Linked DNA regions of Homo sapiens. The protein of the gene in region 2 purifies or fractionates together with the protein of the main gene of each other region. This does not show direct contact. Each region holds a gene or a part of one and is shown on either strand. Other genes may lie near its edges.

Region 1 (5,897 bases), on a different chromosome or scaffold from region 2:
CAAACTTTATTCCCTATGCTGAGCTCTGCTAGCCTCTGCAGCTGGTTAACGGGAGAATGGTGTGGAGAGAAAATAAGTAGGCAGATGAGGGAATGTTTCAAAACAAAGAGTGCCTAAAAACATCCCAAAACACACATCCTATTAAGTGAATCAGTCGACTCAACTTCACATTTGAAGAAAAGATATATTACAGACTGTTTCGTAGCCATAAAAAGGACTCAGCCACATTTCTTTTATCATTATGTCCATAAATAGAAACCAGACAACTTAGGGCCAGGTGCGGTGGCTCACGCCTGTAATCCCAGCACTTTGGGAGGCTGAGGCGGGCGGATCACAAGGTCAGGAGATTGAGACCACGGTGAAACCCCGTCTCTCCTAAAAATACAAAAAATTAGCTGGGCGTGGCAGTGGGCGCCTGTAGTCCCAGCTACTTGGGAGGCTGAGGCAGAAGATTGTGCCACTGCACTCCAGCCTGGGCGACAGAGCGAGACCCTGGATAACCTTGGATATCAGTGCATTACTGGGTCCTCTTAGAACCCTCTTAGAACCCACTTAGAAACCTGTGCACCCTCAGCTTTTGTAGATGCTGCCTCTGAGTTCCTATGCATTGAATTTAGGCCTACGTTTGGTGACAGCTTCAGTTTATCCAGAGTCCTTTCTATGGGCCAGAGATCCTTTCATTTTAGATTCCACAGTTTGTTCATACACCATAGACAGACCGTGACTGTATTTTGAGTGAGTTTGCAAAAATATGGCCAGTTTGTTAGAACTTGACCCACCATCTGCTCACTTATCAGTTTCAGGGTTTTTTTGTTTTGTTTTTTTAGTGACAAGGTTTTGCTCTGTTACCCAGGATGGAATGCAGTGGCGTGATCATAGCTCACTGTAACCTTGAACTCCTGGGCTCAAGCAATCCTCCTGCCTCAGCCTCCCAAGCAGCTGGGACTACAGGCATGAGCTACCACACCTGACTAATATTTTTAAATTTTTTTGTAGAGATATGGTCCTGTCATGTTGCCCAGGCTGATCGTGAACTCCAGGCCTCAAGCAATACTCCTTACTTCTGTCTTGGCCTCCCAAAGTGGTGAGATTACTTTGGTGTAGCCACTGTGCCTGACCCTAGTTTCAGATTTTATACCAGAGAACTAGACAAGGAATTCCCAACCTTTGTTTTATCCCAAGATGTCCTCCTTTTCTGCTTTTTTTTTCCCTCCCAAAGAGAACAGTGGGGGTTGGAGGGATGGTTATCCTTGGGCTATTCTACTTGTTTTTGTTCTGGCACACCTACTCCTTACTACAGTTAGAAAAATTATACACTGTAGCTTATACTCAGATCTCTGGTCACTTAAATACAAGAAGCTTCAGTCTTTCTTACTTTCATTTTTTGTCTTTTTTTGGGATGGTGGTGGTAATGGTGTTGCTAGACTCTAAGCTCTGTAAGATTATGTCTTTGTTTAGGCATGGGCAGTGCCTAGCCCATAGCAGATGAATGAATGAATGAATGAATGAATGAATGGGGATATTATCCTATAGATGGTGTGTGGTTTAGAAAATCAACTATTGAGACTTGACATGAAATTCTACATCGGGCGTTGAGATTAACATGATTCCCAGTTTTCACTGAGGGATATCACATCCAGAGAACCTGAGAAGGGATCCCTAGCTCCTTGTTCTAGCCTTGAGAAGTAGTGGATGAGCTATGAAAAGACAGCTTTTAAAAATAAATGAAATCCTAGTGATAATTTGATCCACTCTCAGACTAACTATGAAAGTTGACTAAGATCAAACAGAGCTAGTGGCAGATCTGGGACTGGAATTAGCCCTCCATGTCCCCAGCTCCAGTACTTTTCTTACTACATGAGATAGTCTTGCCAGTGACCATCACTGCAAGGCAAAGTAAAGTTCTGTAACAAAGACCTAGAACAGAAATAGAAGATACATGGTATACATGCCATGACATTTCCTTCCAGTGCACAGAAGAGATGTCACTAGCCATATGACATTCTTCCCATTGGGTGCGAATAGGCCCTCAGGCAGCCACTACCAACCAGTCAGAGTCAGCACTCAAGAGGAAACCCATCTACCATTCCTCTTCCAGAGGAAATAAAGGTTTCATCAGTCAAGGAACTCTGGCCTCGACCTGTCTTCTCCAGATGAGCTGAAAACTCCAGCAGGAACCTCACACTCTTTATTGCTCTTCACTGTGCCCACATCCACAAAGGACTTAAAAGTGATGTCTGTAAGCAGGTTTTCCACAGCATGGGTCTGCCAGACAGAGCAGGTGCAGGATTAGTCATGACTCCAAGCCAGGCAAGGTGATTAAGAAAAGCTAAATTTATATTAAATTATCATAAAGTCCTAAAATACTGAACATAGTGGTTAAATAACTCCAGAAAGTCCAATCTCTCCAGTGAGTAACGTTAAAACCATTACACATGAGCATGGGAGAATCGCTTCCATTAGTTTAGGACAGAGAGATTTTGCTTTTTACAGAGTAAATCAGTGCTCAAATAGATACTTCCTCAAATATGTCCTTTCTACATTCTGAACAGCCCAAGTGCAATAAGATCCTTCCCCCTTTCCAATCAAGAAAATGCCACTTTTCTACTTGCTCTTCCTCCCCAGACGTGAGTCTAAGGACCCAAAGTGCTCACTCCTTTACTGCTTGTTAAGTGTAATGTGGGGAGGCTCAGAACTGGGGCTGACGCTACTGAGAGCAAGGCTAAGGGCCTGGTATCTCTCTCTAGCAGTCTTAGAACTGACTAGAAAAGAATTGATCTTGTCCTTTTTCACTTTGGTAGCTGATTTCTCAATACCAGTAACCACAGGAGAAGTTTCAACTCAGGAAACTTCCCCTAGAAATTCTCCCCTCCATTCCCAGCCCCTGTTGTTCTCTCCTGCCACTTCTAATTCCTGGGGGAGAAGAGGTCTGGGTCTGCCATGGGCTAGGAGGGCCTCATCAGTGGTGCTCTCTACCTTCCTACTCCTTACCCACCTCTTTGTATTTTTATTTATTCAGCCCTCCCACCACAGGACTTTGGAGATTGCTGGTGCCACAAGGCTTGGTCAGAAAAAGCAAATTAGGCAAAAAAACAAACAAAAAAACCCCACGAAGAACAGCTAGGGAGACGTTTTAGGGCAAAAATAAGTCTCAATTTCCCTGATACCAGGCTGAGACACGTGCCCTTTGTGTGAATGAGCATGAACCAAGTGATGGCATCCCACATGGAAACTAAGCCCCTTAGCTGAGGGGACAGCTGGAAGAGGAACATCACCACCCCGTAGCCACAGGCTTGCTGTCCACTAACTTAGATCCCTGAGCACTTGAGAAAGAACATAGGAAGTTCAACAGGAAGTTTGACCCTCATGGATACTTCTCTTTAGGCCCTGGGTTTCCCAAGTCTCCAACCTGATCGTTCTTTCTGACCATTTATGACAACTTCTGGTTTTTCTTTGAAAGCTTGTTTCTAGGTCTCTTCCCCAGAATCCCAGGACATGAGGGAGAGAGGGGTCAGGAGGTATACCATATTTGGTCTAGGCAGAGCTTCTTAGACTTTTCAGAGACTCAGCCCCCAAGGCCTAACATTCACTCAAGCCACTGGCTCACAACCTGGTTAATTTGAGCAAAGACTTAGGAAAGGTACTGGCCAGTGGTGGCACCAGGAGGGAATTCCTATTAGCCAGTAGCCTTGTGATAGGGGACCCAGTTATCTGAATGTAGAAACAGCTCCAGACATTCTAGGAGGAGGAAGAACAGCCTGAGCCACCCCCATCTCACCAGTATCTGCTGCTGAAAAGGCAGTGTCTCTTAGGGCAAGAATAATGTCCACTGCCAGCAATGGACCAGACACCCAGATCCAACTACCCCCCAAAGCTTTTTCATGTTACTAACACACTTGAGGCTGGAGGTTTCCCAGATGCCCATACCTGCTGGGCTGATTCTTCCTTCTTCTCTCAGCCTCTATCCTTCATCCCTGTCTTTACCCACACCCCCATGTCCCAGCCCCTGATGGGCAAGTTCTCTCAGAGAAGCAGTCATGCTGGCTGTGATGGGGCAGAGCGCAGTCCTGGGTCATCAGCTGCATCAGCACTGAGAAGCAGGCACTGAGGGTACTGGGGAAAGGGGAGGTGGAGCTCTACGCTGGTGAGGAATCACGAATAAGCAGTTTCAGGGGGCCCAGGATGGAGTACAAGATGTGAGGTTCATGGTAAAATCCAGGTCTAAATTCTCGTGATGTGCCATCATTTCTTGTGCACAGGTAGTTATGGACTCACGTGGTAAACAGCTCCGGTGAAGGCTTAGGAACAGTTATGGGGTGGGAGGAGGAGGAGGACAAGCACACAGAAGCGGGGCCTGCGGTGTAAGCGAGCACAAGGACTAGACGTCCATAAAGGAGAAGGAACAGGCAGGCAGGGAAGAGAATGTGGGCATTTAGACCTGGCTCTCTGAGGAGAGCTTGCGTTCATGTTTCCAGCCCGTGTCTGGCAGAGAGCCTCGTCTTTCTGGAGTGGCTGCAGTATGGACGCTGCTACACTCAGACTGCTCTTCCTGTAACAGCTGCTCCGTCTCTGTGTCATCCAGGGAGCCAGAGCTGGCCTGGATGGACACCGTGTCTGTCTTCATGCATACATGATCCCGGAGGAGGCCCCCCCGTGAGCTTCGCAGTTGCTTGAGGTCATCCCACTCAGCATCATCCCCAGACAGGAGGCAGATTCCCTCTACGATCTTGATCTTCTCCTTGGTGTAGTTATGGTCAGGCCCTCCCTAGGGTGGAGAGTGGGCAGATATGGTCAGTCAGTTGGCCTTCTACAAAGGATCCCATGGTAAACTGAAAAAGGAAGTGGATGGGGTAAGAGTAGGAGTGAAGCGCACAAAAATCCCACAAACAAATGGGGAAATGTGATTAAGACAAGTGTATGAGGCCTAGCCTAAAAGGGGAGAGGCAGCTGTGATAATTATTACCATTACCATACAGGAGGAGGGAAAACCATGGCTTCCGGTCCTGCAGCAGCCACTCACTGGCTTTGTCACCTTAGGCAAATTATTTCACATTTCTAAAACTCAGTCTCTTAAGACTCTGCAGTGTGAGGAGAGTAACAGTATCCACACCTCACAACCAACTGCTGTCACCTTAAATGAGATGATACATGGAATGCAGTTATCAGGGAGCTTGACACAAGATGCACTATAACATGTTAGCTATGTTACATTGTTACTGTGGTTTATTAATGGGACATCATGCTGATATAAATCATCAAAAGCAATTGGCAAGAGCAATTAAATGTACATTTATTCAGGATTTTAAGCTACTTCGGGTGCTAGTTTGTATCTCTTTTTTCTAATTTTGTTAAGGAGAAAACTTGGGAGGTAAGACAGGGGACTCTAGAAAATCCTCTTATCTGGCCGGGCGTGGTGGCTTACACCTGTAATCCCAGCACTTTGGGAGGCCCAGGCGGGCAGATCACTTGAGTTCAGGAGTTCGAGACTAGCCTGGCCAACATGGTGAAACCCCATCTCTACTAAAAATACAAAAATCAGCTGGGTTTGGTGGCGGGTGCCTGTAATCCCAGCTATTTGGGAGGCTGAGGCAGGAGAATCCCTTGAACTCCGGAGGCTGAGGTTACAGTGAGCCAAGATCATGCCACTGCACTCCAGCCTGGGTGACAGAGCAAGATTCCATTAAAAAAAAAAAAAGAAAGAAAGAAAGAAAAAAAACTAAAAAAAAGGAAATCTTCTTATCTGGGTCCTAAACGTCAATATAGTGGGGTCCTGCAACTTATAACCTTTTTTGGGAGGTTACTCTCGCTCTGCTGCCATGAGTCCTGGGACCATTCCCAAGCAAAACCTGGGACTCTTCCAGGCACAGCCTGGAGTTCTGCTCGGGCCTCTCCCTTTA
Region 2 (9,887 bases):
CCCAGCCCTGGGGTTACCTGACCTGACAAAGCCTTTTACGCTGTATGTTTCTGAGAGAGAAAATACGGCAGTTAGGGTTTTGATCCAAACTGTGGGGCCCTGGCCGAGGCCAGTGGCCTGCCTCTCTAAGAAACTAAATGGGGATTCTAAAGGTTAGCCCTCATGTTTGAGGGCCTTGGCAGCAACTGCCCTGCTGGCAGAAGAAGCAGATAAACTAACTCTTAGGCAAAACCTGAACATAAAGGCCCCCCATGCTGTGGTGACTTTAATGAATACCAAAAGACATCATTGGCTAATGAATGCTAGACTAAACAAGTACCAAAGCTTGCTCTGTGAAAATCCCCACATAACCATTGAAGTTTGTAACACCCTGAACCCCGCCACCTTACTCTTGGTATCAGACAGCCCTGTTGAGCATAACTGTGTAGAGGTGTTGGACTCAGTTTACTTTAGCAGGCTTGACCTTTGAGACCAGCCTTGGGCATCAGTAGACTGGGAGCTATAAGTGGACAGGAGCAGCTTCAACAGCCCACAAGGAGAGAGATGTGCAGGATATGCGGTAGTAACCCTGGACACTGCCATTGATGCCAGATCGTTGTCCCAGGGCACTTCAGCCCAGAAAGCCGAGCTCATTGCTTTAATTCAGGCCTTAGAACTCAGTGAAGGTAAGACTGAAAATATTTACACTGACTCTCGGTATGCCTTTTTAACCCTTCAAGTGCATAAAGCATTATATAAAGAAAAGGGCCTGTTGAACTCTGGAGAAAAAGACATAAAATATCAGCAAGAAATCTTGCAATTATTAGAAGCAGCATAGAAACCCCACAATGTGGCAGTCATGCACTGCAGAGGACACCAGCGAGCTTCCACCTCGGTTGCCTTAGGGAACTCCAGAGCTGACTCAGAAGCTCGAAAAGCAACATCCACACCCTACTGGGCATCAGTCACAGCCCCCTTGCTCCCTCAAGCACCTGACCTTGTACCTACTTATTCTAAAGAAGAAAAAGACTTTCTCCAGGCAGAGGGAAGACAGGTGATGGAAGAAGGAAGGATCCGGTCACCAAATAGGACAGTACCTGTGCCACAGCTGCTAGGAGCCACAGTTGTACTGGAGGTGCATGAAACCACCCATCTAGGTCAGGAGTCACTTGAACAGTTGTTAGGCTGGTACTTCTACAGCTCACAATTGTCAGCCCTCGCCAAAACCGTGGCACAGCGGTGTGTTACCTGCCGACAGCACAATGCGAGGCAGGGTTCAGCCATTCTGCCCGGCATACAAGCTTATGAAGCAGCCCCCTTTGAAGATCTCCAGGTGGACTTCACAGAAATGCCAAAGTGTAGAAGTAACAAGTATTTACTAGTTCTCGTGTGTACCTACTCTAGGTAGGTGGAGGCTTATCCCACACGAACTGAGAAAGCTCATGTGCTTCTTCGAGATCTTATTCCTAGATTTGGACGGCCCTTACGAATCAGCTCGGATAACGGGCTGGAGTTTGTGGCTGACTTAGTACAGACGACAGCAAAGGTATTAAAGATCACGTGGAAACTGCATGCTGCCTTCTGACCTCAGAGTTCTGGAAAGGTGGAGTGAATGAATCGGATTATCAAAAATAGCTTAAGGCCTTAGGAAAAATTACACAAATGATTTCAGCCCAGGTAAATGAGAGATGCCCCATTAGCTTATTCTCCCCAGTTCACTCTTTCTCCCCGGGTGATTGAGTGTGGATCAAGGACTGGAACGTAGCCCCTGTGTGCCCCCACTGGAAAGTACCCCAGACCGTCATCCTGACCACTCCCACCGCTGTGAAGGTAGAAGGAATCCCGGCCTGGATCCACCACAGCCATATAAAACCTGCAGCGCCTGAAACCTGGGAGGCAAGGCCAAGCCCAGATAACCCCTGCAAAGTGACCCTGAAGAAGACGACAAGCCCTGCTCCAGTCACACCCGGAAGCTGACTGGTCCTACGCACAGTGGAAGCATGAGGAAGCTCATCGTGGGACTCATTCTTCTTAAATTTTAGACTTGTACAGTAAAGGCTTCAACTGACCTTCCTCAAACTAAGGACTGTTCCCAGTGTATTCATCAGGTCACTGAGATAGGACAGCAAATTAAAACAATCTTTCTGTTCTATAGTTATTATGAATGTACAGGCACGTTAAAAGGATCTTATTTGTATAATTCCACTCAATACAAGGTACGTAGCCCAGGAAATGACAAACCTACTATGGGTTATAACCCATCTAAGCCTCCTGCAACCACCGTTTTTCAAATAAGATTAAGAACTGGTCCTTTCCTAGGTGACACAAGTAAAATAATAACTAGAACAGAAGAAAAAAGAATCCCCAAACAAGAAACTTTAAATTTGATGCTTGTGCAGCCATTAATAGTAACAAGCTCAGATTAAGATGTGGCTCTCTTAACTAAGAAAGGAGCTGCACAGTAGAAAATAAATGTTTGTCATGAGGCAGAGGTCTGTGAAAATTTGCCTGTTGCCCATGTGTTATTTAGGCTACTTAGAAAAATGACAAAAAAGACCCGGTTCACTTTCAAAAAAAAGAAGCCAACCCCTCCTGTGCTAGCAGTCACTGTAACCCACTAGAACTAATAATCACTAATTCCCTAGACCCCCGTTAGAGAAAAAGAGAAGGTGTAATCCTGACGGTCAATAGGACAAGGGTAACCCCCCAAGTTGCCATTTTAGTCCGAGGGGAGGTCCCCAGGCCCTTTCCCAAACCAGTGTTTCAAGCCTTTTATAATGAGCTAAATCTGCCAGCACCAGAGCTTCCAAAAAAGACAAGGAACTTGTTTCTCCAGTTAACGGAAAATGTAGCTCATTCCCTCAATGTTGCTTCTTGTTATGTACGCGGAGGAACTACTGTTGGAGACCGATGGCCTCAGGAAGCCCGAGAGTTGGTGCCCACTGATCCAGTTCCTCACACAATTCCAGCTCAGAAGGCCCAAACTAGCAACTTCTAGGTCCTAAAAACCTCAGTTATTAGACAATACTATGTAGCTAAGGAAAGAAAAAACTTCAGCAACCCCGTAAGAAAGCTCAATTGTCTAGGACAGAAGTTGTATACAACAGCACAACAAGGACAGTCACTTGGTGAGGCTTAAACCACACTGAAAAGAACTCATTACGTAAATTTTCTAAATTACAGACTGCCTAGGCTCATCCAGAATTTCATTGAGACTGGACGGCCCCCGCTGGACTATACTAGTCCAGGCACAGAGACTATACTATACTATACTAGTCCAGGCACAGGCTATACTAGTCTGTAGGCACAGAGACCCATCTCCAACAACAAAGAAGAAAAGTGAAAATCTGGGTCCTGGCTCTGGGAATCTAAGGCCAATTAATGTGAACTTTGCAAAACTAGACCAAAAGGAATAACCCCATCTCCCCACCCGTAGTAACAAAGGATCAAAGGGTACTCTCCCTGTAGCCCTCCCACTTCCACCACGTCTCAGATGGAAAGGGAAAGAGCCCAGGAGTGGCCACAAAGCACCGGCCACCCTGGGGCTGCGGGGCTGCAACGCTGCGCTCCAGGGGCCGACTAGAGCGAGGCTGGGAAGCGCTCTTGCCCAGGGCAAGAATCCAGCTCCGGGTGAGGACTTGAAACAGCGCGAGGCGGGAGGACGCGTCAGAAAGGGTTTTGCTAAGGAAAGTTTCGCGACAGGAGGTGTCTGCACGGCCCCACTGCAGAAAGACCGGGGACGGGACCAGCCTCAGGGCAACTTTAAACTCAAAAGGAAGCGACTCACGGACTCTCACCCGGACGTTTCAATTTGCTCTGGGTTGAGAAAAGAGGGGCCGGAACCTGCAGGTCTGTGGGGACCCCACGTCCCCTATATAGCAGCACCAGACAACTAGGAAACGCACACGCCGCCGTGCAACTTTCAGTCCACGCCATCCGCTTCCGGGTCTGTGCCAATCGGCGCAGGACAGAAGCGGGACCTGGGCCAGATCCCCGAGAGGTGGGCGGGGCCTGGGCGAGGCCGGGGCGGGGTGCAAAGGACAAGGGGCCCGGCGCGGAAGAGAAGAGTCTTGGGCTGGGAGGAGTCCGCGGGGGCGGGAAAGGGGCGGGGCCTGAGCTTTTCTCCATCTCGCTCTCCGCGCCTCTGTTTTCAAGGTTTTAGAGGTGAAACCCGCCAGTGAGGCTGGAGCAGCTCAGCAGTCAGGGAAATAGTACCTCCCTGAGAAGTCGCCGTGTGGCGGTAATTGGATCCGGGAAAGTTCCTTGCTATTGAAATTTATTTTAGCAATTTAATTCCAAAGCCTGGAAGTTGTCTACGGCAGGAATGCAAACTAGAATGCGAAATGCAAAGCCTTGCCTGAGCGAAAGGTACAATTTCATGCTGACGGTCCACAGAACAGAATAGAAATCCTCTCCCTTTCAATTCTCCATTCACTGGAGTGGGAGAGTCCACACTGTGCTCAGCTCCTGAGACTTCCCTAGGGCCACCGTCTGGGGTGCGGAGCAGAGGAGTGTGCTTAAACACAGCAGGGATGCGGGCGGGGTGGCAGGAGTCTGGGGTCCCCGCTACTCAGGAAGCAGGGGCGAGAGGATCGCTGAGCCTGGAGTTCCAGGCCAGCCTGGGCGACAAAGTAAGACCCTCTATCCCAGAGCTCCCTCCTCCGTCTCAATAAACAAAAAAGTGATTTAAAAAAAGCACTGACATTGTAACAGTGCATATAAGTTGCCCAGTTGTTTCTTACGTTTATTATTTCATGCTGCACTTAAAATGAGTTATTTTTGTCGTGGAAAAGAATCAAACTGTAAAATATCTTAAGAGATTTATTCTAAGCTAAATATGAATGACCCTCAGGAGGTCCTGAGAACATGTGTCCAAGGTGATGGGGAACAGCTTGTTCTTAGACATTTTAGGGAGGCATTAGACATCAATCAAATACATTTAAGAAATACGCTGCTTTGGTTCAGAAAGGAGGGGCAACTCAAAGCGGGGACTTCTGGGCTACAGGTAAATTGAAACATTTTCTGATTGACAATTGGTTGAGTTTGTCTAAATACCTGGGATCAACGGAGAGGAAATGTTCACGTTAAGGTAAAAGATTGTGGAGACCAATGTTGTTTTCAAGTCTTCTATTGGCTGCCCTTAGAGATAATAGATGATAAGTGTTTTCTATTCAGACCTTTAAACAGTGCGAGATTCTTACTTAATCTCTTCAGGATTGGTAGGGCCTAGAAGAAAAAGATCTAGCTATGTTAACAGAGATTCTTTACAAATGCACATGTACCCCTCACAAAGAACAGCTTTGCAGGACCATTTCAAAATATGGCACAGAAACATGTTTTGGGGTAAAATATTTTGACTTTCTTCTTTGTCACGTTATTCCAGAGTCAGACTGGAAAGTAAGACAGGATATATAGGACTAAATAAAACCCATCTGATGAGTATTTATGGTTTGTAGGGCATGACTCCCCAGACCCTTTAGATAGGAATTTGGGCAAGAGAAAAAAATTAGACCTTGGTCCTCATTCTCAAATTCTTTTTTTAAAAAATAATTCCTAAGTGTATTGTAATATCAAATTCACTTTACGTGCCTTCTGAAAATAAGTAGAAAATGTACTTTTTATCTTCAAGTTGTAATTTTTTTTTCCCTAGAAACAGGACCTAGTTCTGACACCCAGGATGGAATGCAGTGGTGGGAACACTGCCCACTGCAACCTCAACCTCTGGGGCTCAAGCAATCCTCCCGTCTCACCTCCCAACTAGCTGGGGCCACAGGCCCTCACCACCAGGCCTGGCTAATTTTTTAATATTTTGTAGAGTCGGGGGTCCACTATGATGCTTAGGCTGGCCTTGAACTCCTGTACTCAAACAATCCTCCCACCTTAGCTTCCCAAAGTGTTGGGATTAAAGGCGAGCTACCACACCCATCCAATTGTAATCTATTTTGGGTGTTTTCTTTGTTGTTCTCTCCTAAGTGTTCTATCAGGTGTGAACAACAAAGGCTGTAAAATAGGCAGTCTTCAAACATTGGGATTTATTTTCATATAGAGAATAATTATGAGATATTACTAAGGATACATTGCAGTCAGGTTATTCTGTTTTACGTGGGCCCTGAAGAAAATATAACTAAATTACAAAATTGGCTGGGTGTGATGGCTCACACCTGTAATCCCAGCACTTTGGCAGGCCTAGGCGAATGGATCACCCTGAGGTCAGGAGTTTGAGATCAGCCTGGCCAACACAGCGAAACCCCATCTGTACTAAAAATACAAAAATTAGCTGGGCATGGTGGCATGCGCCTGTAATCTCAGCTACTCAAGAGGTTGAGGCAGGAGAATTGCTTGAGCCCAGGCAGCAGAGGTTGCAGTGAGCTGACATCTCACCATTGCACTCCAGCCTGGGCAACAGAGTGAGACTGCATCTCAAAAAAAGAAAAAAAAAATTATAAACTTTTACATCACCGCATTTCTGCATGCAATAATTTTATGGCAATATCTGTAAGTTAACATGTACTATGAACTATATTTTTCACTCACATCCCTAGTTATCGAAGGTTTCATTTATCAAATACTAGTAATTAGCTAAAACATAATTATGTTTAGGAAGAAATTAGCATATCTAAAATATTAGCAAGTTTAAAAAAGCATAATGTGGCCAGGGATGGTGGCTCGTGCATGTAATTCCAGCATGATGGGAGACCGAAGCAGAAAGATAGCTAGTGGCCAAAAGTTGGAGACCAGCCCAGGCACATGGTGAAACCTCATCTTTATATTTTAAATATTTATGTATCTATGTATTCATTTATTCATCTTTGAGATGGAGTTTCATTCTCATTGCTTAGGCTGGAGTGAAATGGTGTGGTCTCGGCTCACTACAACCTCTGTCTCCTGGGTTCACGTGACTCTCCTGCCTCAGCCTCCCGAGTAGCAGGTATTACAGGCATATGCCACCATGCCTGACTAATTTTCTATTTTTACTAGAGACGGGGTACCTCCATGTTAGTCAGGCTGGTCTCGAACTCCCGACCTCAGGCGATCCACCCACCGCAGCCTCCCAAAGTGCTGGGATTAGAGGCCTGAGCCACCATACCCAGCCTCTATGTAGCTTTGTAAAAAATCCTTGTAGCTGTCTCTTTTAGGAATAAAATGGGAGGCAGGTTTGTCTGACACAGTTCCCAGCCTGACTTTTCTCTTTGGCTTAGTAATTTTTAAGCTTCTTTCACAACCTTCTGACAGACATAATGCTTTGACACACTGATATTGGTTTATATAGATTTTCCAAAACAGTAAAGTCCAAGGGTCTATCCTGAACTGGGTTAGCGGAGGCGAGAAGATTCCCAGAAGACTCCTGATCTCAAGCAATCCTCCCACCTCAGCCTCCGAATGTGTGAGGACCACAAGTGTGATCCACTGAACCCAGTGGAGTCTCCATCTCAAAAAAAACCAAAAAGCAATACGGGAATTAAGGTACTCTATGGAATTACATCATTTGACTTTTTTTTGAAATGAAAAGCCTCACATATTTATTACTGAACCCAGCCAACCAACATGTTCATAACAGATTCAGAGAGAAAAAATATATTCCCAATAAAACATGTCCAACTCTCCAGATAATGGTGACATTTTCTGCTTGATATGGTAACGTGATTGTAATGCTCAGACAGCATAAAAATGTGTGCCATCTCATGTACAATTCCTTATAGACACGGATTGGTTCTTCTCCAATGTCTCCTTTTAAAGTTGTACCTGATTTTATTACCAGTTTTCATCTGAATCCACTGGGGAATGGAACAATTTTGCTTTTTTTCTTGGCCAGGAATTGCTTAATCCTGATAGTCTTATGAGAAGATCTGGTGAGAAGCAGAGTCAAGTACACACCATGATGGTGGAGAAAGGAAGAGAAGGGGCTTGACATCTTTTTTTTTTTTTTTTTTTTTTTTTTTTTGAGAGAAAGTTTCACTCTTGTTGCCCAGGCTGGAGTGCAATGGCACTATCGGTTCACTGCAACTTCCACCTCCTGGGTTCAAGCGATTCTCCCACCTCAGCCTCCCAAGGAGCTGGGATTACAGGTGTCTGCGACCATACCTAGCTAATTTTTGTATTTTTAATAGAGATGGCATTTCACCATGTTAACCAGCCTGTTCTCAACCTCCTGACTATTGTTTCTGCTGTTAGCTGTCAGTCCTCTTCATCACGGCACAAACAAGATTATTGTTTTTCTCTGAAACTGATGTGGATGGTCTGCCTGCTGCTCCACGTGTAACCTTCAACATTGTCTTCTCCCAACTCAAAATTAGTTATCCATTTACAAACTGTTGATTTCTTTTGGGCATCGTCCCCATAACCTTTTCATAAAGCATCAATGATATCATAATTCATCTACCCAAACTTTACCATAAGTATTCTTTTTTTGAGACATGCTGGAGTGCAGTGGCAAGATCACAGCTCACTGCAGCCTCGACCTCCCAGGCTCATGCCATCCTCATGCTACAGACTCCACAGTAGCTGGCCCTGCAGTCAGGTGCCACCCTGCCCAGTGAATTTCTGTATTTTTTGTATAGAAGGGGTTTTCACCATGTTGCCCAGGCTGGTCCTGAATGCCTGGGCTCACGTGACCCACCTGTCTTGGCCTCTGAAATTACTGGAATTACAGACCTGAGACACTGCAACTGTTCTCATCATAAATTTTATGTTTCTTCTTGTTTCAATTTTAGCAGAATTTGTATTCCTTTGATACAGTCTCTTTTCAAACTCATGTCTTATCCTTCTCAGTGCCTCAAACTAGAGCCTGTTCAGACATGTTATAACAGATTTGTATCAGTTTATTTTGGTGCAAAAACTGTGAAATTCATGCACAATTTTTCCATAATATGTATTTTTCCATGAGCTTCTTGAAGACCACTTGTACTAGAAAACTGTATTCAAGAGGATATATAAAAGGATTGTAGATATGCAAGTGCCATTTACTTCTGGCATGCAAGGATGGTTCAACATATTCAAGCAAATCAATGTGATATACCACTTGAACAGAATGAAAGATGAAAACCACATCATCTCAACAGATGGAGAAAAATCATTTCACAAAATTCAGCATCTGATCATCATAGAAATCTTAAACAAAATAGATGGAGAAGGAAATTTACCTCACCAATAGAAAGACCATTGATGAAATGACCAATGTGGAGATAACCAAGCAGGGAAAATAGAATCCTTTTCCCGTAGGATCTCACATGATGCAAGAACGTTCTCACTTTTTCTATTCAATAAATACTGGAAGTCCTAGCCAGAGCAATGAACTAGCAAAAGAAATGAAATGCCTCAAAATCAGAAAAAGTAAAATTATATTTTTTGTAGATGACATGATCTTCTGTGTAGAAAATCACAAAGAGTCAACCAAAATACTACTGTGACTAATAAACACATCAGTAGATTTGCACAATACAATATCAGCACCAAAAATTCGTTGAATTTTCATACATTAACAATAAACAATTTTAAATGAAAATTTAAAAACACTTCCATTTGCTAGAGAACTTAAAGTAAGAAATAGGAATAAATGGAAAGAAGTGAGAAATTCATACATTGAAATCTACAAACATTGATCAAAATGATTAAAAACATATATAAAGATATAACCCATATTGATGTTTTGGAAAAATTAATACTGTTAAATGATTACATAACCCAATGTGATTTTGATTCAACACAATACCCATAAAAATCTCTATCAGTTTTTGTTGAAGAAACAAAAAACAGACTGGGAAAGGTGCTCACCTCTGTTGGCCAGGCTGCTCTCAAACTCCTGATCTCAAGTGATCTACCTGTCTTGGCCTCCCAAAGTGCTGGGATTACAGGTGTGAGCCACCGCACCTGGCCTAATCCTCTTAACATAAACACTTTAATCTCAACAA
Region 3 (9,563 bases), on a different chromosome or scaffold from region 2:
CTCACCTGTGAGGCAGGGACATGGCCCTGACCTCGGCCTGCTGTGACCCAAAACAGGTCAGGAGCACTGGATGCGAAGCCTGTCATGCAGCAGGATTGCAACACATAAGTGCTGCTGGCTTGGCCTCTTCTGTGCCATTAAGGCCCTGGAGCCTGACCGCCAACTGGGCTGCCAGCCACCCTCCTGCACACCCTACAAGCTGCGACCTGCTTTGCCAGCTGTTCCAGGTGAGGCCCTGCCTGCAGCGGGCACAGGTAGGACCGAGAAGGCTGGGTGACAAGAGGACCCACTCCTGCCAACAGCACGCACCAGGACATCTGCACTTGCAGTGCAGCTCCTTCCTTCCCTCCGGGTCTCAGCAGCCCAGCTGTACTGGCTCCCTCTACTCACTGTTTTCCTCTGTAGCAACCTACCTGGTGGACCCACCCTTCCCTTAGATGCTCTTTGTGACAATCATAGGGGGGTCTCCACCCTCCTGGCAGAACCCTGACAGTTCTTTCCACTGTGTCTATCAGAAACAGCCAGGGCACCTCGCCACTGTGACACATGCACCCTGACCCTGTTCCCAGAGGTCCTGACTCACCAGGTCTCGGGGGAGGCATGGCACAAAAGGCCTCAGGTTAACTGTAACATACACAGAGGCTACTCTATAAAAACAAACAAAATACAAACATACAGAAATACCTGGCTTTCAGACACCAGTGAAAACCTTTCAGCCCTGACTGCCGAGACTTTAACATTTGGGGGTCCTGCAGTGTAGATACCGGCTCCTGGGAGAGAAGCTAGGGAGCCAGGAGCCAGCTTCTGTCACCTGGTGCCAGGATGGGAGACACCTGTTTCTGTAACCAACACTGATAGGTAAAACACACACAGAGGGCACTCCAAAAAACCTCAGAGACCTGCCGAACCACTTCCAAGCAGGCAGTTTTCCGGTCCCTGCTCCAGCCAGGGAAACTGGAAATAGAGTGTCAAGGATCACGCCCAGGTTCTAAAATCCATCCTTCCCCACACATATTTATAGAGACCTCTGTGCACACGAGCTCTGGGGAAGGAAAGACGATATCCACATCTAACAAAAAAACACAAAGGCCTCCAGGGCTTCAGGAGACACCCCTGGTGATCCTGCAGAGTTCTGACTCAAATGCTCCTTTCTGTGATCTGACATTCCACACAAAACTTAATTAGAAAATGTACATGTTAACCAAGTCTTTAAATACCTATCCCTTTAACCTCTAAGCTCTCACCTGCTGGGGCAGGTGTGGGCCACTGGGGCTTCCTCCCCCAACTTCCGCAGGCGGAAAGCCCAGGGTAGCCTGCTCGCGGCAAGAAGGCCTTGAGAAGGGCCTTGCAGGGCCAAGTCGACAGGACCAAATCCTGGAGTGCAAGCCCTGCACGCCTTCCTTTTTTGAGCACCGTTTATTGTCACTCCAGATAGAAATCATAGTGATTATGATTCCCTAATAGCAACCAGAAATGTACAGGGCTGCTAAAGCCTCAGCATGATGGAGTGCCAATTCAGATCTGCCCGAATTATAATCCAGTTCCCTGCCCTGAACCTCACCGTGCCATCCACAGGCAGAGGAAAACAGCACTTTATATGCCATGCAATCCCCCAAGATCTGACTTCCACCCTTCGACCCAGGCACTTCTTCTGTTAAGACAGGATTTTTAAAGACCAGGCATAAAGGGGCTGGGTGCAGTGGTTCACGCCTGTAGTCCCAGCACTCTGGGAGGCAGGCGTGGGTGGATCACTTGAGGTCAGGAGTTCGAGACCATCCTGGCCAACATGGTGAAATCCATCTCTACTAAAAACACAAAACTGAGTTGGGTGTGGTAGCAGACACCTGTAGTTCCAGCTACTCAGGAGGCTGAAGCAGGAGAATCACTTCAACCCAGGGAGGCGGAGGTTGCAGTGAGCCAAGATTGCGCAACTGCACTCCAGCTTGGGCGACAGAGCAAGACTCTGCCTCGGGAAAAAAAACCAAAAAACAAAAACCAGCCATCAATGCCCTGGAGGAGAAGCAGTGAAGGCAGAACAGCCCTGACAGCGAAGAGGCCGCAGCTGTTGTGTTCCTGGCTTGTGGCAACCTCCACACGTTTCCTGGCTCCTGGGTAATGTGGGCAGGGGTGAGGAGCCAGAAACACAGACTTGTGGGGCTCTAGAGGCCTCAAGGACAGCAGCGAAAACTCTCAGAGCTCAGGAACCACAACGGTGTGAGTGCTGCCAGTCAAGGCCCATGGCACAGAGCCCTAACGCTTCCTTCCTAGAAGCAAAAAACTGAGATGAGCTCTGAGAACCGTGCCTGAATGCTCTCAGGAACGTCACTGAGACTCCAGTGAGTGGGGCTGGGTCTCAGCCGAGCGCACCCTGGGGCCCTGCACATGGCTGCTCTCTCCGGAGCGTGGCCGCATGCAGGAAGGAAACGGAGGGGCAGGCAGGGCCATTCCTTACACTGTGTCTCTGACATCTCTCGGGATCCGAGAATTCCAATCTCGAAAAACTTCATTTTCTTTGTCAAATTCCCGTTCGTCTTCGCCAATGGTCACCGTAAACCTTTTCTCTTCAAAATCAGGCTCCTGTTCTTTTCGAATAGTTGCTTTTTTTAAAACCTACCATTGTAAGAAGAAAGAAGTCAACATGGAACAGAATACCGGGCGTCGCTGTTAGGAAACACAAAGGGAGCCGTCCCACCCGACCGCAGCAGCCCTGCAGGAGCAGGAGCTGCACGCTGCAAGTGCTCAAGGGGTGAGGGGCGGACACAGCACAGTTGTCCTTCTGGGGAGGGCAGTCTGTGCCCGTCTCTGCACAAACAGCTGCCCCCGGCCTCCGTGTGCCCACATGAGGTGTTCATCACTTCCTTCAACTACCCTTGGAACTAGATCCAGGGTTCAGTCACTCAGTGACAAGCAGCAGGTGGAGTGGCTGGAGTCTCAGAGGGAAGGAAGTGACATGCCGAGGGAGTGAGAAGGAACATCTTGTCCGTCATTTCCCAGCAGGGAGGCTGACCAGGAAAATGAGGAAGTGGGGCTGGGTGCCAGCAGAGTGGTCCCCAGAGCTGAAGCTCACACACTGGGGCCAACGTGGGCCTAGAGGGAGGAAGTGTGCAGTGATAGGACCAGAAAGCTCCAAGTTTTCTCCAGGAAGAGCAGACACTGAGTCTCAGGAGTGTGGGGTGCAGATCCTGGGGGTGCGGCTCGGGCAGCCTCGCCAGGCTTTCTGTGAGTGGCTGGAGACTGCACCCTGTGCTCCTGGGCAGTGCCAGCTGGGGTGTGGCCCAGTGCTGATCCAGCCCCATGAAGACAGTGGGTATGCCCTGGACTGAACTCCCTGGCCTACTGGGCTGCTGCCTGAGACAGTTAGATATAACTCTCCATCCTTCCGGGCCTGGTGGCGCATGCCTGTAATCCCAGCTACTTGGGAGGCCGAGCAGGAGAATCACATGAACCTGGGAGGCGGAGGCTGCAGTGAGTCGAGTTTGGGCCATTGCACTCCAGCCTGGGCAACAAGAGTGAAACTCTGTCTCCAAAAAAATAAATAAATAAAAAATAAAGAAAGACACCACAGAAACAGACGCCTAACTTCAGAGATTTCTGGGGCTCTCTCTGGACCGAGGAAATCCCAGTTTTGTCAAGAACCACTCCTGTAATAGCATCTTTCTTGTCGGGATTTCTGCTGAATTGTGTTTACCTCCTTTGCATGCCGGAGTCCTCGTTCCCAGGCACTCTCTGTTGGGGGCTCTGGAGGGGGTGGAGGCAAAATTTCATCAACTACCGGCCCACCCTATTGAAAAACGAGAAGGGAGAAGGTGAGAAAGTAAAACTTTCAAGTGTACAGAGAAACCAGACAGTAAAAACATCAACTACAACACAAGCCGGCCGTGTGTGGCCGCTCTCCTTCCACCAAGCCTCACTCCGTCCTCGGAAAGCCGAGGCCTGCTTCCACTCGGGACGACAGAAGCAGCCGAAAGGGGGCACTGAGCCTGTGCTAAGGCACAGTGACTTGTCTTAAGCTTGAGATTCAGACACAGCTCAGTTGGCTGATGTGCTAACAATGAAAGAAGAGGCATCACGCACCCAAGGGTTGGCGGGCATCAGCGGGTGAGGTCCGAGAGGCGGGGCACCATTAGGCGGGAAGGGGTCGGCTTTGGTGATTAGGGAGTAGTTCCCCTTGTCGTTCACTCCAGGGTGTATAAACCTACAATTCATTCCCCAGGTACAGTTCCCTATGGAAACAAAAGTGAGATCAGAAAGGGTCCACAAGAGCCTAATTGCACAAGGGCAGCTGCTGGGGTGGGGGGTGGGAGGGGGCAGAGGCCATGTTTACCCAGGCCTGATGGCGAGCCACACAGTAGTGGGAACTGAACGGGGAGGTGGGCGGGATGAGCCTGGAGAGGCTGAGCCAGACAGCTGCACCTGCCCAGGCACGGCAGTTCCCCAGAGGCTGCCAGGCACCTCGGTCAGAGTGACCACAAAGTCACTTTGTGGAGAGTTCACGCGTATCAACTGTCTGAGTATTAATTTTCCCCTTAAACCAGAAAAGCCCCAGAGCTTTGCTTCCAGCCCTGGCCCAGGCTCATCTAGGTACAACTGGATGTTAATTGTATTTGTGCCGAAACAGACATCAATGAGAAGCATTAACAATGATCAGAAGCCTGCAGGTGTGCTCAGGGTCCCCTTGGCCACCTCTGTACGTCTGCATTTCTCTCACAGAGAAAACTCTCACAGGGCATTTCAAGATATTTCTGGAACTGAAACGGGCTTTTACACTTTGCTCATAAATAACAATCACAAACCTTCATCTTCAACAGAATATCCGGGTTAGTAAAGGAGACCTCGACTTTCAAGTGTAGAATATAAGACATCTAAGTGTCTAACTCAATTACTGAGTGAATCACTTTTTTAAAATGTACTTTTTTGGGAATAGATAATGTGTACACATTGTTTAAAACCAAATATGGCATATAGTATCTAAGCGGTTTAAAAATTTTTTTCAATGGGTTAACATGCAGTTAGATTTTAAATCATTTAAAATTTTAACCTTAAACATCAGGAACACTTAAGCCTGCATTAAAACCAACTCAATACAACATAATAACAATATCGATCCAAATTAAACACGAAAGAAAACTTAAAACTGCTTCTCTGGAAATGCAAAAATGACAAGTAATTTTTAAAATTTCTAAAAGCATTTCAGAGATCACACATAAGTCAAACGAAGTTGGGAGGCCAGGCGTGGTGGCTCACGACGTCAAGAGATCAAGACCATCCTGGCTAACATGGTGAAACCCCGTCTCTACTAAAAAATACAAAAAATTAGCCGGACGTGGTGGCAGGTGCCTGTAGTCCCAGCTACTTGGGAGGCTGAAGCAGGAGAATGGCGTGAACCCAGGAGGTGGAGCTTGCAGTGAGCCGAGATCGTGCCACTGCACTCCAGCCTGGGCAACAGAGCGAGTCTCTCTCAAAAACAACAACAAAAAACAAAAGAGGTTGGGAAATGTTATTCTATAGGGGGTTCAAAAATCCAGAGCCTCAGAGAGATTTAAAGAAAAACTGACTATGCAGTCATCCATCTGAGACTCAACACACTACAGAGCTCTTCATGGTTTGCCTCTGAAAATACTCATGCAGTATTCAAAATCACGTGTGTAACTAAACAAGTAACAAAAGCTCATTGTAAAAAATGTCCAAGTACAGAAAAGTGCTGACAATAGAAACCACAGCTTTTCTGTACTCCTTTTCCTTTTTTTTTCAGATGGAGTCTCACTCTGACTGAGTGAGACAGTCCCAGGCTGGAGTGCAATGATGCAATCTCGGCTCACTGCAACCTCCACCTCCTGGGTGTCAGTGATTCTCCTGCCTCAGCCTCCTGAGTAGCTGGGATTACAGGCGGGTACCACCATGCCAGGCTAATTTTTGTATTTTTAGTAGAGACGGGACTTCACCAACTTGGTCAGGCTGGTCTCGAACTCCTGACCTTGTGATCTGCCAGCCTCGGCCTCCCAAAGTGCTGGGATTACAGGCGTGAACCACCACACTCGGCCTCTGTACTTCTTTTTCATCTAAAATATGTATCTGGGTGGTGGCTAAATGTTATCGTTCTTTTCTGTATTTATGAAAATTTTTAGGACATCACCTACGAACCTACTATCAAAAAAGATCCTTTCTCACTGATATTGGCATGGGGAGAAAAGAGGAACAAGGCAGAAGAGAACAAACCAGTGAGCGCCAAAGAGCAAGCTGAGAAGGCGAGCGTGGGGCTGCCACTAGAGACCAGACACTAGTGGGTGACAGTGTTCAGCTCTCGGGAGCCACCTGCCCGGGGGTGCTGAGCGCTGTCCTGCCCCTGGCCAGAGTAAAGGGGAAGATGGCTCTGGAAAGCAGCACAGTTGGTCTGCACGTCTAGCTGGGACACACTTCCAGCAGACGTCAGGCAGAAAGAACACCATTGTCCCATCTATCTTTTTAAAATGTGAACTTTTATCTGTGTAGGAACACACCCAACTGTCGGGAATGTGGGAAGGGGCTTTAGATTTTATTTTCTTGCCTTCTGCCAGCCCATATTACTTTCTTTCCTTTTTTTAATTTTTTTTTTTTTGAGATGGAGTCTCGCTCTGTTGCCCAGGCTGGAGTGCAGTGGAGCGACCTAGGCTCATTGCAACCTCTGCCTCACAGTTCAAGCAACTCTCCTGCCTCAGCCTCCCGAGTAGCTGGGATTACAGGTGTGCACCACCAAGCCCGGCTAATTTTTGTATTTTTAGTAGTGACAGGGTTTCGCCATGTTAGCCAGGCTGGTCTCAAACTCCTGAAGTCAGGTGATCCGCCCACCTCGGCCTCCCAAAGAGCTGGGATTACAGGTGTCAGCTACCGTCCCCAGCCTTACTTTCATAATTTAAAAAGCAATTTGTTAAAAAAAAAAAAAAAAAAAAGAAAGAAAGAAATTATCCAGAAAATAGAAGCAACAATAAAGATCTTCTGGTTTACAAATGGGACTTCAAACCCAAAATTTATGTGGATTGTGATTCTAACAGTATAAAGATAGTTCTGCGGATACTGTGTACACAGACATGGCCTCAGGCCAGAAGAGGACAAGGAGGGACAGAGGCCGCTGGAGCGGGGCGGAGGCGGCCCCTCCACTGCTGAAATGTCTAAGTACTATTTCTGGCTTCAAGACAGGATGATGGTCTTTTTCTTAACTGGAATGTCGGCACAGCAGCAACTGGTTTTTCTTTTGTTTTGTTTTTGTTTTTTTGAGATGGAGTTTTGTTCTTGTTGCCCAGGCTGGAGTGCAATGGCACAATCTCAGCTCACTGCAACCTCCGCCTCCCAGGTTCAAGTGATTCTCCTGCCTCAGCCTCCCGAGTAGCTGGAATTACAGGCATGCACCACCACGCCTGGCTAATTTTGTATTTTTAGTAGAAACGAGGTTTCTCCATGTTGGTCAGGCTAGTCTTGAGCTTGCGACCTCAGGTGATCCGCCCGCCTCGGCCTCCCAAAGTGCTGGGATTACAGGCATGAACCACCACGCCCAGCCAACTGTTTTATTCTCTTATTAATCTTTACGCTTGTGTAAACACTGTATTATTTTATATATATGAAATATTTCATAATCAAATGAAATACTTGTAAATAAAAAATACCCACCCACTCTAAAAGGTACACTGTGAAGTTGACCACCTATCCCATGCCTCCAGGGCCATTCCCAGAGGCAGTTATCAATATACTGGGGCTCCATCCATCAATCATTGCCCCCTTTTACCTGAGCATATATATTATGCTCTGTGCTGAACCTTGCTTTTTTTCACTAAACAATGTAACTACAGAAAGGGAACCTGCATGCTCAGTAGCAACCAACCCAAACTGGATCAGGGAAACAGACAGGAAACAGATAGGAAACATGGAAAATCCGGAAACTAAACACAGAGGTGGCAGGAACTGAGGCTCAGCTCATGCTCCAGCACAGCCCACACATGAAGTATCTTTAAATGTCTCTTCTGATTTTGAATACAGTAAATATCAATTCCCTGTGTTTACTTGGTTTATATGTGTCATTTCTATTGATACGTACGATATTAGAAATTAAGAGACACTTAAAGATATCTCATTATTTAACAATAACAAGATATCCAATATATAGTAACAAATATTTATGAAACTGTTTTTAAAATATTTGGTGAGAGGAATAGCATTCTTTGCCTTTTTGCGAATCTCTTGAATGCTGACCCTGGAAAACCCCTGGCCTCCCATCTGCATGCGATCGACCATGAAGGGCCGCTGTGGCTCAAGCAGGAGAGGACATTACAGCCCCAGGAAGAGATGCAGCTAGAGAGGGAGGGGCATCTAAAAGCCTTTTCAGTGTGCTCAGAGCTTCTCCCTGACACCGCACTCAGCAAGGGAAGGCTCCTTACAGCGAGCTGCAATTGAACCCTATCACCACACTTTTCCAACTTGGTTCTTCTGAAATCCATTGGTCTATCTTGAACTTTGAATGGGTCTTTTACCCAGGCATGATTCTGTGACATCCTGCAATGGTCACCTGAGAAAGTCCTGACACACTGAGAAGCTGGTGAGCACACAAAAGTCCAATTTTCAACTGAAAGCTCCAATTTTAATACTGCTAACACTGTCCGTTGTTCTCCTTGAAGCCACAGGCTCACTTTGTTCCTGCCAGGACCCGGATCTGCATTCCCTGGCATGTCTGCCAGTCTTTCTCATCAATGTGTGCTCCACGGAGAGCGCACAGGGTCAGCCGCAGCTCCAGCCTTGCACGTGCTGCCCCTTGAGGCCGCTGGACTTGGGTGCCGGCAGGGGCTCTACCCACGCTGCCACTCCACCACGCTGAGTACTGAGACACACACAGAAGCTCTGCTTTCTGGCTTTCCACAGTTTCAGTTACCTGCGTCTGAAAATACTAAATCGAAAATTCCAAAAATAATTCCTAAGTTTTAAATGATGTTCTGTGCTGAGCAGCGTGATGAAATCTTGTGCCGACCTCCTCTGCCCCACCTGGGACACGAATCATCCCTTTGTCCAGCAGATGCAAGCTGTCCACGACGCTAACTGCCCACTAGTCACTTAGCAGCCCTCTTGGCCAACAACCGTTGGGGGTACGGCGGTGCTGTGCTCACTGTGGCTCAGTGACCCAGGATCACTGGGGGCAGGTGACCTTCCTTCTGACGCATTGGCAGGAGGTCAAGGGGGGCCCAATGCTAAGTGGCAGGGCCTCCGTGTCATCATGCGAGCATATTTCATCCCACGTCATCAGATGGCTGAGTGGCTGAGTGCAGTAAAGTGAGCTCTTTTGAGAGATCACATTCACATTTTTATTACAATTGCTCTATTTTATGATTGGCTATTGTTGTTAATCTCTTACTGTGCGTAACTTATAAATTAAACTTTATCATAGGGATATGCTTATATAATCATGGAACTGTACACTTAAAATGGGTCAATTTCATGGCACATAAATATTACTTTAATAAAGTTTTTTAAAAAGAACTTACGAATAATAAAAATAAATAATACATCTGTACACAAGTGTAAGATTTAATTAAATTACAGTTCTT
Region 4 (5,106 bases), on a different chromosome or scaffold from region 2:
GATAATCACTTGAACCCAGGAGGTGGAGCTTGCGTTGCAGTGAGCCAAGACTGTGCCACTGTACTCCAGCCTGGGCGACAGAGTGAGACTGTCTCAAGAGAAAAAAAAATCTTTTCAGTGCTGCATCACAAATGGATGGGGGAAAGGAGCGGGTGCAGACCAACAATGAATGCAAGCTGACCCATTATGGTAGCACAGATGAAAGATCTTGGCTACCCAGATTGGATGTGAATGCTACAGACACAATAGAAATATCATAAAAATCATTAGTGCCAAGGATTTGGCAGCTGAATGAGGGGGGCTGAAGGACAGGGACGAATCAAGACTTGGCAATTTTTGGCTTGAACACCCAAAAGGATGATGTGCCATGTATTGTTTTCATTAAATGTTTAAGGGAAAACATGATGTGAAATTACTATGTGGAATAGTGTTGTTTTTAATACTTAAGAAAAATTACATTGTTAACTACAAAGTAATTTCAAACTTAATGTGTATTTCTTGATCAACTATAGTCTTCCCACAATTTCTCAATGTCTGAGCTTACTTAAAAATTGCCAACATCAATTTTAGATTCTTCTTAGACAATTTTCTACTGTCCTTAGAATAACGGATTCTAAACATGGCCTACCAAGACTGTTCCCACCCTGTCCTTTGTCTAATCCTGCTTTTAGTTCTTGGAATATGCTAGGCTCTTCATCTGCCTTTGGATCCTTTGCCAACAGCAATTCCTCCCCCGTTAATGCTGGCTTGCTTTCTGGATTCAACTATTACGTCCAATCATGATTAGATCCCCATTCACTTGTAAGGGAATTATACTTTCTCCTCAGAGAATGTATGATAGTTTATAATGTTATACTTACATAAATATTTGTCTTAACAGTCCATAAGCACCATCAAGGCAGGGAGCATAACTGCTTTGCTCTATTGATAAAACAGAACCGCCAGGTGCAGTGGCTCATGCCTGTAATCCCAGCACTTTGGGAGGCTGAGGCGGGCGGATCACGGTCAGGGGTTTGAGACCAGTCTGGCCAACATAGTGAAACCCCGCCTCTACTAAAAACACAAAAATTAACCGGACATGGTGGCGCGTGCCTGTAGTCCCAGCTACTCCGGAGGCTGAGGCAGGAGAATCGCTTGAACCCGGGAGGCAGAGGTTGTGGTGAAGTGAGATTGCACCACTGAACTCCAGCCTAGGCAACAGAGCCAGACTCCAACTCAAAAAAAAAAACAACAACAACAACAAAAAAAAAAACCCCAAAACTTAGTGCAGAACCTGCCACATAGTAGGCACTGCAATTTCTACTGAATAAAGAATGAATACAGTAGCAAGGCAAAGGCAAACTGAAGGCTGAATTAAGATTTAACTCAAGCTCCACTGTTCAGTGGCAATCCTACATCAGCATAGATGTAATTTTATCATCCCTAAAACAAGATAAAACATAACCACTTTATATGAAAGAACTACCAATGTAAAAGAAGTATGACAAGGGTTTTTCATGTTTATTTAGCAAGTTAAATGCTGTTTTTACTGATGATAGAAAGCAAATAAGATACTCCTCAAAATCAAAGAAAATAATTAAAACTATAAAGTATTTGTTCACCTGAAGTTCAGTATTTATGACATAATTATGCCCTTAGCTACTTTCAAGATTTTAACTTTACTAAAATAAACTTTAAAAAAAAATACTGCATAGGAAAATGTCTGATTCTTGTTTTAAAGTGTTACTGTTTTATTTTTTTTCTTTTGTTGAATACACATTTGTTTTACTGGCAGTCCAGATAAACAAGTATATAAAGGAAATAGTAAATTTTTATTTTGGCAGAAGATAAACTGTGCAGATTAAAATGCCTCAATTTAACCTGAAGAAATGGTTTTGAATCATATAAATTTTTAAGAAGAAAAATAAAGACTGTCCAAAGGGATTCTCCTAGCTTATAACACATTTCCAGAATAACTCTCAAAAAAAAAAAATTCAAAAATACTCATTGACTACCTTAAAAATATGTCAATACCGTATGGCTTTATGAAATAACTTCTAAAATTTATATAATTTTTCTTATTTAAAAAGGACCCCAAGTTTTAAATAAGCTGCTAGCAGTATCATTTTCTTCACTTAAAAGTGCATATCTTTGAGGGTGGGACATACATTTTGAACAAATAATGATTTTTACAAATTAACACCAAAAAAAAAATCATTTAAAATATTGTAAGGAGGAAGAGAGTTTTCACCAAATGTCATCTTTAAATAGACTGCAGTAGACGACATTCTTCCTTTTTCCTTTTTATAACATCATAATTCTCAATGAAATGCTTTGGCAGTTTTAAGACATATCACAGTCTCTACCAAGACATACTGACATTAATGATGTCCGTGGCGATGGCAATTGCCTTGATGGCTCAGTTTGAAGAGACACAATGTTACTGGGCTGGTTCTCCAAATCAGAAACAAAGGTGCTCTCTTCTCTTACATCGAGAGTTTGTTCAACTGAAGCTGCCAGAGGTGGAATATTATCTACAGTTTTGTTGGCATTATTCAAGTTGTTACTAAGTGTGGCAATATCACATTCCTTGTCCAGCACACCAAATTCAGCTTCTATTGTAACTACATCTTTAGTTTCAAATGGTTCCAAGGAAGGAGCCAAAAACTCATTTTGTAGAGGGTCTTGAGGACCACTATTGTCACATTCTGTATCCTCCTTTACTTCAGAATCCTTATCACTGTCACTGTCAATGGTAATTACAACTGGGGAACGTGAAGCATTATCTCCATGGTGTTTCTTATGCTTCTTCTTATGTTTCTTCTTTTTCTTTTTATGGTGTTTAGTTGTATCAGTAGCTTTTCCTTCATAAACTATCTCTACACTTAGGCTCCGGGTCTTCCTTTTTCTCCTTTTGTGTTTTGTCTCTCTGTCTGATGATCGGCTGTCTGAAAAGGTATCACTCTCATTTTTGTAGTTTCCATCCAATTTTGATGAAGATTTTTGGTAATGACTGTCCTTTGCTTTAGAAGCAAATTCACGAGATGGCTGAGCCACTTCGTTAGTACCCTCCAAATGCCGTGTTTTGTATTTTCGTTTCCCTCCAGGCTTTTCATTTCTCACCCGGTCAGTCCCGGTAGATGCAGTCCTTGATCTGTTACTAGACAGGCTCCTTGATCTGTGCCTTTCATAGTAGTAATACTTCCTCTCACTGTGATTATTTTTTTTCCTAGCATTTGTTCTTTCAGAAAAGGACTGAACTCTAAATTCTGGACTTGAAGACTGTCTAGAATAATGAGCTCTGGACAGAGTCCTCCTCCTGTAAGATGATTCGTACCCATCCCTGTCCTTGTTTCTACTGTAATAAGTATACTCCCATTTGTATCTGCTTCCATAATTATTTCTTAAATAATAACGATCTCTATTTCTGCTCCGTGATCTTCTTTTACCATGATCACTGCTACGAGACCTTGATCTGCTTGTGCTTTCACTACTTAGAGACAGAGTTTGGCTTCTTCTGGACCAACTGCTATCTCTAGTTCTTGATCTCTTTTTGTCTCTTCTCCCTCTAGGTCTGCTACTTTCCCTGCTTCTGGATCGTTTACTTTTCATTCTTTTCTTCCCATGATGCTTTCTATGATTCTTCTGATCATGCCCACTTCTACTCTGAGAACGTGAATCTGAACTTCTTGATCTTCCCCTCTTTCTGTGTCTATGGTTATATGGAGAATATACTCTGTCTCCTCTTACAGATGAGTTCAGGTTTCTGGGAGATGACAATGATGTAGATCGTTTCTCTTCCTTCTTTGATTTGATTCTTGTACTAGAATCACAATGACCTTTATTTATTTGTTCATCCTTTCCAAGGACAGAGTGTGGAGATGAGCATCTACTAACATCGCTATCACCAGAACTGTAAGATTGCTCCTGTTCTTGTGTCTTCACTGTCTCCATTTTCTCATAAGAACCTAAGTCCTCAGAATCAGAGGACAGTTCAACAAGTTCTGGGGTCCTCTCAGCTAGTGGTTTAACAAACCCAACAATGACACAATTATCTGAAGAATCATCACTGTCATTATTTAGGTCGTCATTGGTTTGTACTCCTTGTATCTGAGACGTGGCTCCTCCTGTGACAAGTTCTTCATCTGAACTGTCAGAAGTATTTAAAAGAGAAGACATAGTAACGTGTACCTGCTCTGAGCTTGAGTAAGATGGTCCTGGAGTTTCATCATCCCATGGTGCCTGACTAACAGTGGCTACATTAATATCCAGCTCTTGGGTCTCAGCCTCATCTGGAGATATTGTTATGACTGAAGAATCAGAATGGCTGCCTTCTTCGTATGAAGGAGCAGGGCAATCATAATTGGCATGCTGGTCAAAGGCTGCCATGTTAAAAGGAGATCGGGCAAAACTGATAAATTCATGTATAAAATGCTCAGTTCGATTAAGTAAAAATGGTCTTAAATCAGACACAAATGCCTGACTCTCCAAGTCATAGCGAGTAACATTACTCATGATAATATGCTGGACAATATTCACTAAAGATCCATGAGCTCCAAAAAGAACTGTAAGTTCACGTTTTAACCAGGGGACTAATCTGTGAAGGCAAGCTGGATTTCTACGGAAAAATTCAGCTGAAATATCCCTGTAGCGGCCACCATCTTCAATATTTCTAACTCGAGCACCAGCACGATAAAGAGTTCGTCTAAAATTAATAATATCTTGTTCTTGAATTTTCCGCAAAGATCTTTCATCTGCCGTAGTTGGCCTCCTTACTGCAATCTGTCTCATAAACTGAGGAATTTCAACATCTCTAGGTCTTGTTGAAATGCCTAACCCTTCAAACAGTACTCCACTATCCGGTGGAGTTGTTGTTCTTCTGTTCACAGGACCACTAGGTGAATACACAGAAGCATTTCGTTCCCTTGTCAGAGTTGTACGGTAGCGAAATCGTCGATCAGGGGTGACAAAAGAACCATTATACGAAGGCCTTAGGACATACTCCTTGAAGTCATCTTCTGCCCTCACAGAATGGAAAATAGAATCAAAGGGCTGTTTACATAGTGGGCATTCAGCTTTGTTTTTTGACCACTCCTGTACACAGCGAAAACAGAACTTATGTAAGCA

Evidence for each region.
Region 1: the proteins of ZNF816 (region 2) and LRP4 purify together in Homo sapiens (affinity purification with mass spectrometry; 2 studies listed by BioGRID and IntAct, with this or other methods). This does not show direct contact.
Region 3: the proteins of ZNF816 (region 2) and ZC3H18 purify together in Homo sapiens (affinity purification with mass spectrometry; 2 studies listed by BioGRID and IntAct, with this or other methods). This does not show direct contact.
Region 4: the proteins of ZNF816 (region 2) and TOPORS purify together in Homo sapiens (affinity purification with mass spectrometry; 2 studies listed by BioGRID and IntAct, with this or other methods). This does not show direct contact.

What each region holds. Positions count from the first base shown.
Region 1 is NC_000011.10:46,854,551-46,860,447, forward strand, and holds the end of LRP4 (low-density lipoprotein receptor-related protein 4 precursor), read right to left. Parts: intron 4,766-5,897; coding exon 4,433-4,765; 3' UTR 2,167-4,432; downstream 1-2,166. UniProt on the Homo sapiens protein: Mediates SOST-dependent inhibition of bone formation. Functions as a specific facilitator of SOST-mediated inhibition of Wnt signaling.
Region 2 is NC_000019.10:52,958,951-52,968,837, forward strand, and holds the start of ZNF816 (zinc finger protein 816), read right to left. Parts: upstream 3,932-9,887; 5' UTR 3,777-3,931; exon of another isoform or gene 3,767-3,776; intron 1,228-3,766; exon of another isoform or gene 1,077-1,227; intron 1-1,076. UniProt on the Homo sapiens protein: May be involved in transcriptional regulation.
Region 3 is NC_000016.10:88,592,838-88,602,400, reverse strand, and holds part of ZC3H18 (zinc finger CCCH domain-containing protein 18), read right to left. Parts: intron 4,224-9,563; coding exon 4,075-4,223; intron 3,782-4,074; coding exon 3,689-3,781; intron 2,611-3,688; coding exon 2,453-2,610; intron 1-2,452.
Region 4 is NC_000009.12:32,539,065-32,544,170, forward strand, and holds the end of TOPORS (E3 ubiquitin-protein ligase Topors), read right to left. Parts: coding exon 2,323-5,106; 3' UTR 1,480-2,322; downstream 1-1,479. UniProt on the Homo sapiens protein: Functions as an E3 ubiquitin-protein ligase and as an E3 SUMO1-protein ligase. Probable tumor suppressor involved in cell growth, cell proliferation and apoptosis that regulates p53/TP53 stability through ubiquitin-dependent degradation.